Regions from separate parts of the Homo sapiens genome. Here region 2 is linked to region 1. A link means that fine-mapping ties the variant in region 1 to the expression of a gene that starts in the linked region. Tissue or cell type: blood mononuclear cells. Region 1 holds a variant in brackets; the other region holds the start of a gene. All regions are shown on one strand. Distances are from middle to middle.

The links. PIP is the estimated chance that this variant, and not a neighbour inherited with it, causes the effect.
Region 2: HAGH starts here. The variant in region 1 is fine-mapped to the expression of HAGH in blood mononuclear cells (TOPMed, PIP 0.98).

Annotation. Positions count from the first base shown.
Region 1 is chr16:1,792,220-1,799,229 of GRCh38, forward strand. It overlaps IGFALS (insulin like growth factor binding protein acid labile subunit), which reads right to left and starts at 1,486. Exons shown (of 2, transcript NM_004970.3): 1 at 1,418-1,486; 2 at 1-182. The coding sequence starts at 1,433. The variant C/T (reference allele first, on the strand shown) is at 2,321.
Region 2 is chr16:1,822,738-1,829,896 of GRCh38, forward strand. HAGH (hydroxyacylglutathione hydrolase) reads right to left here and starts at 4,088. Exons shown (of 9, transcript NM_005326.6): 1 at 3,975-4,088; 2 at 128-300. The coding sequence starts at 4,050. FAHD1 (fumarylacetoacetate hydrolase domain containing 1) reads left to right here and starts at 4,469. Exons shown (of 1, transcript NM_031208.4): 1 at 4,469-6,173. The coding sequence starts at 4,502. The coding sequence ends at 5,167. RefSeq lists enhancers at 1,165-1,234, 4,499-4,688 and a silencer at 3,439-4,408.

The sequences.
Region 1 (7,010 bases):
CGTGAGGTTCCTGGAGCTGCAGAAGACGCTGAGCTCATCCGCGTCGTCATCGTAGCTGCAGACACAGGCGGCCGGGCACGCTGGGCCCTCGGCTTCCCCCGGCGTTCCGGGGTCTGCTCCCTCCAGGCTGCGGGGGCCCAGTGCCACCCAGGACAGCAGCAGCAGCGCCAGGGCCAGGCCTCCTGCGGGGGGAGAGGCTTGGGGAGGCGGCCCGAGGAGGGCTCTGCCCGAGTGAGCCTGATACCAGCACAGCCGGAAGCGGCGCTCAGGTGTGAACTGAGGCTCGAGGTCACCCGCTGAGATGCGAAGAAGCCGGTGAGCCCCACAGGTCCTCCGGCTCAAAAGCTGACACTGCGCTTCCCACCCCATGGGACAGAGGAGTGGCCGCCCCGCCCCGCTGCACAGACGCTCAGGGCTTGGCTCTCCAGCTGTGCGCAGGCCACGTGGGCTCGGCCAGGCTGGGTCTCGGGCTGTCTGGCCATGTGGCAGCCGCACCCCCAAGGCAGGCGCTTGAGCCAGGCCAGTCTGCCACGTTGGCCTAGAGGAAGGGGAGGGAACTGAGCCATTGGCCAAGGTCCGGCCATTTTCAGAATATTCTGCAGCAGGTCTTGGTGGGCACTCGCTCACTGCCCTCAGAGGCTGGACAGGGAGCTGGGCACCTCCTGCCCCAGTTAGGCCCCCCAGCGGGGTCTCACCTGCCTGCATCCAGGCCTTGGTCGGGTGCTGCGGGAGGGGACCGGGGCACCGCCGTCGGGGGACAGGTAGGAACCCTGGACCGTCGGCCACCAAAGCTCACATTGCCTTTCAGGACAAGGGGCCACAGGCCCCACAGACCCAGCCAGCAGGCTCCCAAGCAGCGATGACCCAAAACCTCTACTGTATGGCCCCCCCATCCTCAGAGAGTGTGGAATTGCTGGGATGGTGGCAGGGGCGAGGTGGGGCCCCCCCGACTGCCCTTCTGTCACGATGGGTTGGGAGTGGCCTGAGCCAGCTCTGGAGCTCAGCTCAGGCTTGGGGGTGGCCGAAGCTGCAAGGGGTCACCCCACAGAGACAATGGGGTGTGAGCCAACGTCTCCTGCCTGGGCCGGGCCCACAACGCGGGCCGTGCGGGGCACTTCCCGCCGCTGTGCTGGGAGCTGAAGGGTCCGGCCTGCACCTGGCCCTCCTCCCCTGTGCCGCCGCCAGCGCCCTTAGGGTGGAGGACGGGACAGAGACCCCTGGTGCCAGGCACAGCTGTGTCCCCCTGCCAACCCCAGCAGCCGCATTTCCGACTGTGGGCTCCCCAGAGTCCCCCGCAGACCCCCAGAGCTGAGCCCCCCAGAGCTTCCTTGGGGGCTACCCCGGCCTCTCCCCAGCGGGCTCAGGGTCACAGACTGGCCACCCCTAGAGTGGGTGGCGGGGCACTCGGGGGCCTCACCTTTCCTCAGGGCCATCCTGCATGCAGGGCAGGCTGCAGGCAGGCAGCGAGGGAGGGTACGTCTGCTGTGCCGGCCACCCCTGCCCTCTGGATTTCCCCACTGCGGGGCAGCCCGCGCCTGTCACCTGGCTGGCCCAACCCAGCTGGCCCTGGCTCTGTTAACCCCCTCGTGCCGGGCGGCCGGCATCAGCCCGGAGCCCTGGGGTGCAGACAGTGCAGGGGGTGAGGGAGCTTCAGTCGGGGCCCGAGGTAGCCGTAATGCGGCCCTGGGGGCTGACGGCCAGTGCCCGGGCCCCCTGCAGGGCTGACTGGGGAGGGCTGGGCAGCCAGGTTGGGGTGGGGACCCCTTGCAGCAGCCTGGGAGGGGCTGGGGCTTGAGGCCGGTTTGGGGAGCCCAGGGTTTTACCAGGTCCTGTTGCGGGCAGGGGGCTCCTCGGGCAGCTCCTGGGGTCTTGAGCCCACCCCTGGCCTGAGTAGCCAGCCGTGTGGGGCTAAGGGGCTGCCGCCCCTTCCCCGTGCCCCACCCAGCCATCCACCCGCCCTCCCGGGGGTTCCCTACAGCCTGGGTGGGAGCTGCCGTTTGGGCTTCAGGCCCACGGTGCTGTCCAGGGCCCAAGCTCACCCTGCCTCTCCCGTGACCCCAGGGGCGCTGGTGTCTGGCCACTGCCCCGCCCCCAGCCTCTTCTAGGAATGCCTGGCAGGGCTGCAGGCGCCTGTTTGCTTTTGCCCTGCGCCATCCTCGGGGAGTGTGTGGGGGTGGCCTGGCCATGGGAGCCAGGTCTTGTGCCTCAGACAAGCCTCACCTGCCCCTTGCTGTCCCCCAAGGCTCTGGTGAGGGCCTGGCCGCCCCACAGTCACCGCTTGTGTGCAGAGAGGCCACAGGAATGTGTGCCCAGCCATGTC[C/T]AAGGCCACCCCTGGGCTCCGTCTCCACCTGCCTCCAGAGGCCCCTGGTTCCCCTCCACCTGCTCAAACCACTTCCCAACCAGTCGCTCTCTCCCCCAGGGCCTGAGCAGGTGCAGCCCCTCCCCTCCAGGTCCCTGCAGGCCCCTCCCCTGGCTGTCAGTGGGGCCTGCCCACCAGTCCCTCGGCAGTGGGAAAGTGTGCAGGGAAGCAGCCGGAAGGGGTGCAGGCGGGGGCACAGCCAGGGCTCGGGGAGACCACAGTTTTCCAGGGCCCTACCCCATCCTCAGCTCCGGCCTCACCTGGCAGGCCCCGTGCAGAGCTGTGGGAAGCCGCCGGCCCACTGTCATCGTCTTCCCTTTATCGAGAATTGATCATTTTCCAGGTGGCGTCTCGGCTCCTCTTCTGAGAAATTATAGATCCACGGGGAGAAAGTCCACACCCAGAAAGACCCACGATCCGTTTACTCAGCAGAAAACGCAGACTCAGCAGGGGCCTGGGGCCTGAGGCCAGCAGACCCGGGCGGCCTCCTCTCAGGAGAGGTCCCCGTGGGGGCCCCGGCCTCCGTCAGGCCGCGCACCCCACCTGGGAGCCCCACACATTCCAGGTGGGAAGGGAGAATCTGTCCCTGTTCTCTTCCTTTGGGAGGGGCCGGGTGTCGCGGGCGGGCAGAGCCTCACCAGGGTTGCGGCAGCCGCGTAAGGGGGCTCCAGGCCTCTTTGATTCCTGTGGTAACGCAGAGGCCTACACACACATTCAGCCCATTGAGTTCCAGAGGCCCCCATCACTGCCGCCACCCCCAATGGCCCCACTCCCCGTGGCCTCTCCCAGCTCAAGGCCGGTGGCCTCCCAGGCTCCTCCATGAGCCGCATTCTGCCTGTCTTCAGGCCGCACAGGGCCTGGCTTTCTGTAGGACAGGACCCGAGGGAGGTGAGGCCATGTCTAGGTCACGTCCTGGAATACATCTGTCCCTGTCCTTCTCACTGTTTCCAGCAATGCCACCGAGCCCTGTGGCTCTGCATCCTGTGGGTGCATACCTGTCTACACTCAGGCCAGTGGCGAGTGGACGGTGGCCATCACCTGGGAGACCGAGCATCTTGTCCAGCACACAGCCACAGGGTCATCTGGCCTCAGCCACTGCTGGTTTCGGTCTCTTGCCGATTTTCTAGTTAGCTGGCTGATTTCTGATTTGCAAGATACAAGAAAAAACAAAAGCATTCAGCACGCACACTCAGGTGTGTGGCCTTTCTGTCCTCTCGTTAGGATTCTGGTGAGTTTTTTTTTTTTTTTTTTTTTTGAGATGGAGTTTTGCTCGTTGCCCAGGCTGGAGTGTAATGGTGCGATCTCAGCTCACTGCAACCTCTGCCTCCTGGGTTCAAGCAGTTCTCCTGCCTCAGCCTCCCAAGTAGCTGGGATTATAGGCATGAACCACCACACCTGGCTAATTTTTATTTTATTTTATTTATTTATTTTTTGAGATGGAGTCTCAGTCTGTTACCAGGGCTGGAGTCCAGTGGTGTGATCTCCGCTCACTGCAACCTCCACCTCCCATGTTCAAGCGAGTCTTCTGCCTCAGCCTCCCAAGTAGCTGGGATTACAGGCATGAGCCACCACGCCTGGCTAATGTTTTGTATTTTTAGTAGAGACAGGGTTTCACCATGTTGGCCAAGCTGGTCTCAAACTCCCGACCTCGGGTGATTTGCCGGCCTCGGCCTCCCAAAGTGCTGGGATTACAGGTGTGAGCCACCGTGCCCAGCCCCTAATTTTGTATTTTTAGTAGAGACAGGGTTTCTCCATGTTAGTCAGGCTGGTCTCAAACTCCTGACCTCAGGTGATTTGCCTGCCTTGGCCTCCCAAAGCTCTGGGATTACAAGCGTGAGCCACCGGGCCGGCGAGAGTTCTTAATTTTAATTGAGATGATATCCCTTAAATGTTGAGGTTGATTCCTCAGATACCAACAACAAAGATGATTTGGTTTGGCCTCACATCCCCACCCAAATCTCACCTTGAACTGTAATAATTCCCATGTGTCAAGGGCAGGGACAGGTGGAAACAACTCAATCAGGGGGCAGTTTTCCCCATACTGTTGTGGTAGTAACTCTCATGAGACCTGATGGTTGTTTTTGTTTTTTGTGTGTTTGTTTGAGATGGAGTCTTGCTCTGTCTCCCAGGCTGGAGTGCAGTGGCACAATCTCGGCTCACGGCAAGCTCCACCTTCCAGGTTCATGCCATTCTCCTGCCTCAGCCTCCCAAATAGCTGGGACTACAGGTGCCCACCACTACGCCCGGCTAATTTTTTGTATTTTCAGTAGAGATGGGGTTTCACCGTGTTAACCACGATGGTCTCGATCTCCTGACCTCGTGATCCACCCGCCTCAGCCTCCCAAAGTGCTGGGATTACAGGCGTGAGCCACTGCGCCTGGCTGAGACCTGATGGTTTTATAAATGGGAGTTCCCCTGCAGACGCTCTCTTGCCTGCCGCCGTGTAAGACCCTCTGCCTTCCGCCATGATTGTGAGGCCTCCCCAGCCATGTGGAACTGTGAGTCCATTAAACCTCTTTCCTTTATAAATTACCCAGTCTCAGGTATGTCTTTATCAGCAGCATGAGAAAAGACTAATACAGTAAATTATTACTGTAATAATTATTATTACAGTGGGACACTGCTGTAAAGATACCCAAAAATGTGGAAGTGACTTTGGAACTGGGTAGCAGGCAGAGGTTGGAACCGTTTGGAGGGCTCAGAAAAGGACAGGAAGATGTGGGAAAGTCTGGCGCTTCCTAGACTTGCTGAATGCCTTTGACCAAAATCCTGATAGTGATATGGCCAACAAAGTCCAGGCTGAGGTGGTCTCGGAGAAGAGGAACTTGTAGGAAACTGGAATAAAGGTGACTCTTGCTATGTTTTAGCAGAGACTGGTGGCATGTTGCCCCTGCTCTAGAGATTTGTGGAACTTTGAACTTGTGAGAGATGATTTAGGGCATCTAGTGAAATAAATTTTTTTTTTTTTTTCTGAGATGGAGTCTCACTTTGTCACCCAGGCTGGAGTGCAGTGGCGCAATCTCGGCTCACTGCAACCACTGCCTCCCATGTTCAAGCGATTCTCCTGTCTCAGCTTCCTGAGTAGCTGGAACTACAGAAGCACGCTGTCACACCCAGCTAATTTTTGTATTTTTAGTAGAGACAGGGTCTCACCATGTTGGCCAGGAGCGTCTTGATCTCCTGACCTTGTGATCTGCCCGCCTTGGCCTCCCAAAGTGCTGGGATTACAGGCATGAGCCACTGCGCCCAGCCAGTGAAAGAAATTTCTAAGCAGCAAACTGTTCAAAATGTGACCTGGATGCTGTTAAAAGCATTCAGTTTTATGTATTCACAAAGATATGGTTTGGAATTGGAACTTATGTTTAAAAGGGAAGCCAACCATAAAAGACTGAAAAATTTGCAGCGTGATGATGCCATAAAACAGAAAAGCCCATTTTCTGAGGAGAAATTTAAGCTGGCTGCAGAAATTTGCATAACAAGGAGCCAAATGTTAATCACCAAGACAGTGGGGAAAATGTCTCCAGGGCATGTCAGACGTCTTCAGGGCAGCCCCTCCCATCACAGGCCCCGAGGCCTAGGAGGAAAAAATGGTTTAGTGGACCAGACCCAGGGCCTTGCTGCTTTGTGTAGTCTCGGGTGCCCTGCCTCCCAGCCATGGCTAAAGGAGCCAAGGTACAGCTCAGACTGTTGCTTCAGAGGGTGCAAGCCCCAAGCCTTGGCAGTTTCCATGTGGTATTGGGCCTGCAGATGCCCAGAAGTCAAGAATTGAGGTTTGGGAGCTAGGTGCAATGGCTCACGCCTGTAATCCCAACACTTTGGGAGGCCGAGGCAAGTGGATCACCTGAGGTCAGGAGTTTGAGACCAGCCTGGCCAACATGGTGAAACCGTGTCCCTACTAAAAATACAAAAATTAGCCAAGCATGGTGGTGCACGCCTCTAGTCCCAGCTACCTGGGAGGCTGAGGTGGGAGAATCACTTGAACCTGGGAGGCAGAAGTTGCAGTGAGCCAAGATCATGCCACTGCACTCCAGCCTGGGTGACAGAGCAAGACGCCATCTCAAACATAAATAAATTAATAAATTAAAAATTCAGGTTTAGGAACCTCTGCCTGGATTTCAGAGGATGTATAGGAACTACTGGATGTCCAGGCAGAAGTGTGCTGCAGGGGTAGAGTCTTCACAGAGAACCTCTGCTAGGGCAATACGGAAGGGAAATGTGGGGTTGGATCCCTCCACAGGGTCCCTACTAGGGCACTGCCTAGTGGAGCTGTGAGAAAAGGGCCACCATCCTCCAGACCCCAGAATGGTAGATCCACCGACAACAGCTTGCACCATGGACCTGGAAAAGCCACAGACACTTGTCACAAGCCTGTGAAAGCAGCTGGGAGGGGGGCTGTACCCTGCATAGCCACAGGGGTGGAGCTGCCCAAGGCCTTGGGAACCCAGCTCTTGCATCAGTGTGATCTGGATGTGAGACATGGAGTCAAAGGAGATCATTTTGGAGCTTTAAGATTTGACTGCCCTGTTGGATTTCAGATTTGCCTGGGGCCTGTAGCCCCTTTGTTTTGGCCAATTTCTCCCATTTGGAATAGGTGTATTTACCCAATGCCTGTACCCCCACTGTATCTAGGAAGTAACTCACTTGGCTTTTG
Region 2 (7,159 bases), 31 kb after region 1:
GGCCGGAGACTAATTTCCATTTAGCTTAGGCAAAGTTGCAAGGACACTGCGGTTAGGAAACCCATCGGGGGTGAGGACTCCGAGCTGGGTGACCAGGGCAGGGAGAGCCAGGCACAGCCATGCGCACCTTCTGGGGCTGCACCGGATCCACAATGGCAGCCTCCTTGGTCTCATCATCAATGACCAGGTACATGTAGTTGTCGGTCAGGGCAGGCAGCACCTCTACCTTCATGGTGCCCTCGTCCACGGTCAGGTTCTTCCGCAAATCTGTGTGGCAGAAAACTCCCAGCAGGGCTGGACCTGCAGACACAGAGCACAACTCAGCGGGCAGCCGCGCCAGGCCCTCCACGACAGGACGCGCAAGCTGCAGTGCTTCCCAGCCTTTCTAGGTTCCTTTGAAAAGGAATATTCTGGCCAGGTATGGTGGTTCTTGCCGGGAATCCCAGCGCTTTAAGAGACTGAGATGGGAGGACTGCTTGAGGGCAGGAGTTTGAGACCAGCCTGGGCAACATAGCAAGACCTTGTCTTTTTTTTTTTCTTTTTTTTTTGAGACGGAGTCTCGCTCTGTCGCCCAGGCTGGAGTGCAGTGGCGCGATCTCGGCTCACTGCAAGCTCCGCCTCCCAGGTTCACGCCGTTCTCCTGTCTCAGCCTCCTGAGTAGCTGGGACTACAGACGCCCGCCACCATACCCGGCTAATTTTTTGTATTTTTTAGTAGAGACGGGTTTCATGGTGTTAGCCAGGATGGTCTCGATCTCCTGACCTTGTGATCCGCCCACCTCGGCCTCCCAAAGTGCTGGGATGACAGGTGTGAGCCACCGCGACCAGCCAAGACCTTGTCTTTGCAAATTTAAAAATTAGCCAGGCATGGTGGTGCATGCCTGTGGTCCCAGCTACTCCGGAGGCTGAGGCAGGAGGATCACTTGAGCCCAGGAGTTTGAGGCTGCAGTGAGCTATGACTGTGCCACTGCACTCCAGCCTGGGTGACAAGACAATAACCTGTTCCTTAAAAAAAAAAAAAAAAAAAAAAAAAAAAAGGAATATCTTCATATATCCCTGAGGAGAACACAGGAACTAACTCATGCTCACATTCATGGAAATCAATTGTTTCAGACTTACGATCTCTATTTTCTTTTTTGAGAACTCTAAAAGGACAGGAAGGCCAGCTTGTGATTGTGAGGCGAACCACTGCCAGTGCTGGATTATTCACACCCCGGACTCAGGGACAGAATGTGAAGAAGGGAACACAGACTAGGGGTGCCCCCGCCTGGCCATCTGCCCTCCAGCAAGCTGTGCTGCCACCACTGACTAAGCGAGCCTGCGTTCCATGCAGTTACAGCCCTTCTCAGCCTCTAGCCAGAAAGAACCAATACTTGACGGCAGGCTGAGGCAGGAGAATTGCTTGAATCCGGGAGGTGAAAGTTTCAGTGAGCCAAGATCGCCCTACTGCACTCCAGCCTGGGCAACAGAGTGAGACAGTCTCAAAAAAAAAAAAAAACAAACAAACAATACTTGCTCTTGAACAGCACGAATCTGAGATATGCACAAAAATCAGCAGTTCCTTTGAGACGGAAAGTTGGCCACAACTGCCCCCAGATTCAAGTGTGGAGGACACAAAACCACCATCCAACTGACCCAAAGGACTCTGCCACAGGGGCCCAGAAGGCCCAAGAGCTGGGAGGAGTGGGTGACCAAGGGACAAAAGTGTCTGCCACCCAGTCGACCAATGCAAAAATATTTTCAGCAATGAAACTCCTACTAAATCTAAAAATACCTGGGGGCCCCGACAATACCTTCAGTTCCGCTCTACACGGGGAAGAAACCACAGAAGGTGGCAGAGGACAGTGCAGTCCTGGGGTAGGTGCCACGGCAGGGGCTTCTCCCAAAAGGGATCCAGAAATGGGCAGCAGCCACCAACTGACAGACACACGCGTCTCCAGGGCCCACCGAAATGCGGAATCCGACCTTATTTCCACAGCCGGGGAAACTGCCCAAACTATAGTTTCAATCACTGCACAAAGATATCCTATTACCCGCCTGACAACCAGCTGGGCATTTTCCAGATCATTCTCCTCAGGAACAATAATACCAAGATTTCTATATGAGCAGCTTCCTGTGTTATTCCCCTTCCCCTTAGCCTCAGCACCACCCCAGCCCAAGGAGCACAACAAGCAGAGTGTGGGTGCTGGGGGCTGCAGGTGGGGTGCAGAAGGGTTGTGACAGGATTCCGAGTGCCGGGCGTCCTCCTGGAAAGGAGCTCCATTACAAACAAGGAGCAGAACATTACAAACAAAAATACTGCCCACGTGCGGTGGCTCACGCCTGTCATCCCAGCACTTTGGGAGGCCGAGGCGGGCGGATCGCGGGGTCAGGAGTTCGAGACCAGCCTGACCAATATGGTGAAACCCTGTCTCTACTAAAAAATACAAAAATTAGCTGGGCGTGGTGGCGAGCGCCTGTAGTCCCAGCTACTCAGGAGGCTGAGGCAGGAGACTCGCTTGAGCCCGGGAGGCAGAGGTTGCAGTGAGCCGAGATTGGCCACTGCACTGCCCAGGCGAAGAAAATGTCATTTACAACTGGTGCTCAGCCTCCCCTGGAGACCATCACAGCCTCCTGAAGAAGCTGACAACCCAGGGAGGTGCCTTTATTTCTGAGGAAAGACGCAGCTGGTGCCAACACCAGCAGAAACCGTATTCCCTTTCCATATCACTCAGCCCAGCACTGCCTGGCAAATGTTCCCGGCTTGCTGTTTTGTAACTGTAATACTTTGTACAAACAGGTCAAGGACCTGCAGCCTGGGGCCTGGACCAAGTCCAGAAACATGTTCGGTTTGGCCCCAAAAACAAAAAAAAATTGAGATATGGTCTCACTCTGTCCCCTAGGCTACAGTGCAGTGGTGCGATCAAGGGTCACTGCAGCCTCGACCTCCTGGACTCAAGCGATCCTCCCACCTCAGCCTCCAAAGTGACTGAGACTACAGTTGTGTGCCACCACGCCCGGCTGATTTTGTTTAGTTTTTGTAGCGATGAGGTCTCAACATGTTGCCAGGCTGGTCTGGAACTCCTGGACTCAAGCGATCCTCCCGCCTCGGCCTCCCAAAGTGCTGGGATGACAGGCGTGCGTCACTGCACTTCTTTTTTAAATCAGGAAGTTTCACAGCATCTTGCTTCCCTTGAACTGGGCGGCACCAAATACGGGGGCTGGGGCCTCCCTTAGAATGGGGTACGCACGCCCTGCCGATGCACACAGTCCCGCTGGAACTCTCTGCCTGGACCCTTATGAATGTCCCTAAAACTGTAATTCTGAGGACCTCAAAATCCATGTCCTTTCCTTAGCAATGGCGACATTCTACCCCCTGCAGAGCCTTGACAGCTTTCGGCGAGATCTGGAAACCGCCAGGGACGCCTCCCTGTCTGCGCCTCCGCCCGCCCAGTGCCCTGCGCTGCGCACCCGCCCGGGGCGCTGGCCTGGCCCGGCCGCGCGACCACCTCGGGCGAATGACACGCCGGGTCCCCAGACGGGGGCTCCGGCGCCGGGCGGGCAGCTCCACCACCGCAGGCGGCGCCGCGAGACCGCGGTCCTTGCAGCGGGGCAGCAGGTGCGGGGTGGGCCAGGCGTCCCGGGGCCCTGCCCGCTGCGCCTCAGAGCCGCGCCCCAGGCTCTCCTCGGCGCCGGCCCGGGCAGGACGCGATGCCCTGGAGGCGTCAGGGGCGCGGCCGGCCCAGCCCGAGCGTGGAGGCCGCGGCGGACGCAGGCCTGGCCCTGCTTACCTAGCGCTTTCCGCACCCGCGGCCCCGCGCCCGCTCCGCGCCAGCCTCAGCGCCTGCGCCGCCTCCGCTCGAGCCCGGCAGCGCGGCCTTAGGCACCTGCGCAACAGACACCGCGTCAGCGGTCGCCAAACGACGGCCCGGCGCCGCCCGCTGCCCGCCCCGCCAGGCCCGCGTCCCCCGGCCCGCACCGCCCCGCCGCACCCACCGAGGCCTCGGCGGGCGCAGGCGGCTCCCAGCGCGGCGAGGCTGCGGCGGCCGAGCAGCCCTCGGCCCACCACCATGACCCGGGCCGGGCTGGACTGCCGAGCTGCCCAGGACTGCAAAACACCGGCGTCGGCGCGTCGCAGCCAATCAGCGCCCGCCTCGCGCTGCCCTCAGCCAATCAGCGTCCACCTCGCACCGTCCGCCAACCAATCAACGCGCTCGCGCTCAACTTGTTTTGTCCGCGAGCCCCGACTGCCACGGGCCGGGAGACGGGCCTGGGAGCGGCGGCGGCGGCCCGAGAGCTGCGCCGGGAGAGCTGTGCCGCGAGCCTCCGCCTCTTTTTTGGCACCGCACAGTGGATCCCTGGAGGCCGAGCGCCACGCCGCCCGGGTACCCGGCAGATCGCGAGGTGGAACGGGCCGTCGCTGCGGGGGACAGCGTTCCGAGGCAGTTGGTCCTCTCCGGGATGCCGTAGGCATCAGCTGACCGGCCCAGCCCACGTGACTACAGGGGCACTTGATGGGAATCATGGCAGCATCCAGGCCATTGTCCCGCTTCTGGGAGTGGGGAAAGAACATCGTCTGCGTGGGGAGGAACTACGCGGACCACGTCAGGGAGATGCGCAGCGCGGTGTTGAGCGAGCCCGTGCTGTTCCTGAAGCCGTCCACGGCCTACGCGCCCGAGGGCTCGCCCATCCTCATGCCCGCGTACACTCGCAACCTGCACCACGAGCTGGAGCTGGGCGTGGTGATGGGCAAGCGCTGCCGCGCAGTCCCCGAGGCTGCGGCCATGGACTACGTGGGCGGCTATGCCCTGTGCCTGGATATGACCGCCCGGGACGTGCAGGACGAGTGCAAGAAGAAGGGGCTGCCCTGGACTCTGGCGAAGAGCTTCACGGCGTCCTGCCCGGTCAGCGCGTTCGTGCCCAAGGAGAAGATCCCTGACCCTCACAAGCTGAAGCTCTGGCTCAAGGTCAACGGCGAACTCAGACAGGAGGGTGAGACATCCTCCATGATTTTTTCCATCCCCTACATCATCAGCTATGTTTCTAAGATCATAACCTTGGAAGAAGGAGATATTATCTTGACTGGGACGCCAAAGGGAGTTGGACCGGTTAAAGAAAACGATGAGATCGAGGCTGGCATACACGGGCTGGTCAGTATGACATTTAAAGTGGAAAAGCCAGAATATTGAGTTATTTCTTAACAAGTTTCGAGAGAGAAGGGAGCAAGACAAGAGCAAGCAACGGCTATTAAATGTCACAATCCTTTAATTAGAAACCATTTATTGGCCGGACGCGGTGGCTCACGCCTGTAATCGCAGCACTTTGGGAGGCCGAGGCGGGCGGCTCACGACGTCAGGAGATCCAGACCATCTTGGCTAACAGGGTGAAACCCCGTCTCTACTAAAAATACAAAAAATTAGCCGGGCGTGGTGGCGGGCGCCTGTAGTCCCAGCTACTCTGGAGGCTGAGGCAGGAGAATCAATTGAACCCGGGAGGCGGAGCTTACAGTGAGCTGAGATTGCGCCACTGTACTCCTGGGCAACAGCGAGACTCCGTCTCAAAAAAAAAAAAAAAAAAAGAAACCATTTATTTTAAAAATGATTAGATTGCTATGCCTCAACTCATAGAAGATGAACCCTTCAAGAAAACGTGAAGTAGAACGGGTGGGCCAGAAATGAAAACAGGCAAGTAAAGTATTTCTTCGGAAAACATTTTATCAAACCAAATGTTAAAAAGACTTTCCTTTTGTAAAACTGGATTAGAGAAGACTTTTCAGTGGGTTATCTCTAGGATGATCAGTAGTTCAGCACTTAAAAACTGCAGAGAAAACTGAAAGTTATGTTCCAGATAACTTTCCGTTGTTTACCAAATTTTCTTAGATTTGGTCATCATCAGGAAGCATTTGTAAAAATAAAAATCTCCACAAATTACTGGCCCATCTCGGACTTGCTGAATCAATTTGATAGGATTAATCTCCAGTGAAGCTGTGTTTACAGGGCATTCCAAGTGATTCTTATCAGGAAATGTGAAAAACACTCCTGTACATAATCGGTTAATTTAAAATTTTACTTAATAAGTGAACAAGTAATGAAGATTTCACCTGTTTACTTAGGGTATCTACCCAGACCCATCGATTCTGAGTTCGGGAGATGATTTTGAAATTACTGTTTTCCAAATAAAGGTGCTCCCTTCTAAGTGGCTTACAAGGGTAATTTTTTTCCCCCCAGTAATGACGAGGAGGGATATTTCCTCCTTGTGGGGCTTCAGACCTTAGTCTTTGACCTTTGGCCTTCTGAGCACTGTGCTGTGTTAACACAGTTAATCAGCAACTGTACTTCCCAACCGGAGATAAGGAGGCTTTGTGGAAGTTGAATAGCCTGGGACTGCTGCTTTTGCTCTTGCCTGCACCCTCCTCTGAAAAAACATCCAGGCAAGATGCACAGCATAGCTGTCAATGCCTGGAGGAGTCCTTTGGGCTTCGGCAGGGGTTCCTGTTCGCGTTCACATCATCTGCTGGCCCCTGAAGAAAGCCTAGGACATCTGATTGAGTAGTAACGGTCCCCATGTATTGAACACAGTACTGTTAGGCACCATGCCAAGCAGTTTATTCTGTATTTCCACGTGTTATGTAACCAGCAACCAAGCCATAAGCTTAGTATGATCACTACCATCCCCATTACTCAGATGAAGACAGATCTAGAGGCTGCGAAGGCTGGCTAAAGTCACTCAGCTTAGTGGCAGAGCCGAGATGTAACCCAGCTCCCCCAAGACCAGAACGTGAAGTTTTGACCACAATGCAGGCTGCATCTTGTAAGTAGATACATAAGAAGAATCAGACACTTAGGTATGCTGCAACCCCATGCTTAAATTATAATATAGTATGAGGAAGTGCCATAATTGGATTTCTTTATTAAGTATCATGCTATCTTAACTACTTTTAGTATTATTTTTTCATTGCTTGGCAATGCATGTAATTACAGAAGAGTCAGAAAATAGAGATTAGCAATTAGAACAAAACACCAAAAATTTCATCTACCCAGAGACAGCCAAAGTTAAGCATTTATTGCAAGTTCTTCCAAGTCTGTGGATATAATTGTAATTTTTTAAATAGAGTTTGCTCATACCATACAATTTTCTTTTTTTTCTTTCTTTCTTTTTTCTTTTTGAGATGGCGTTTAACT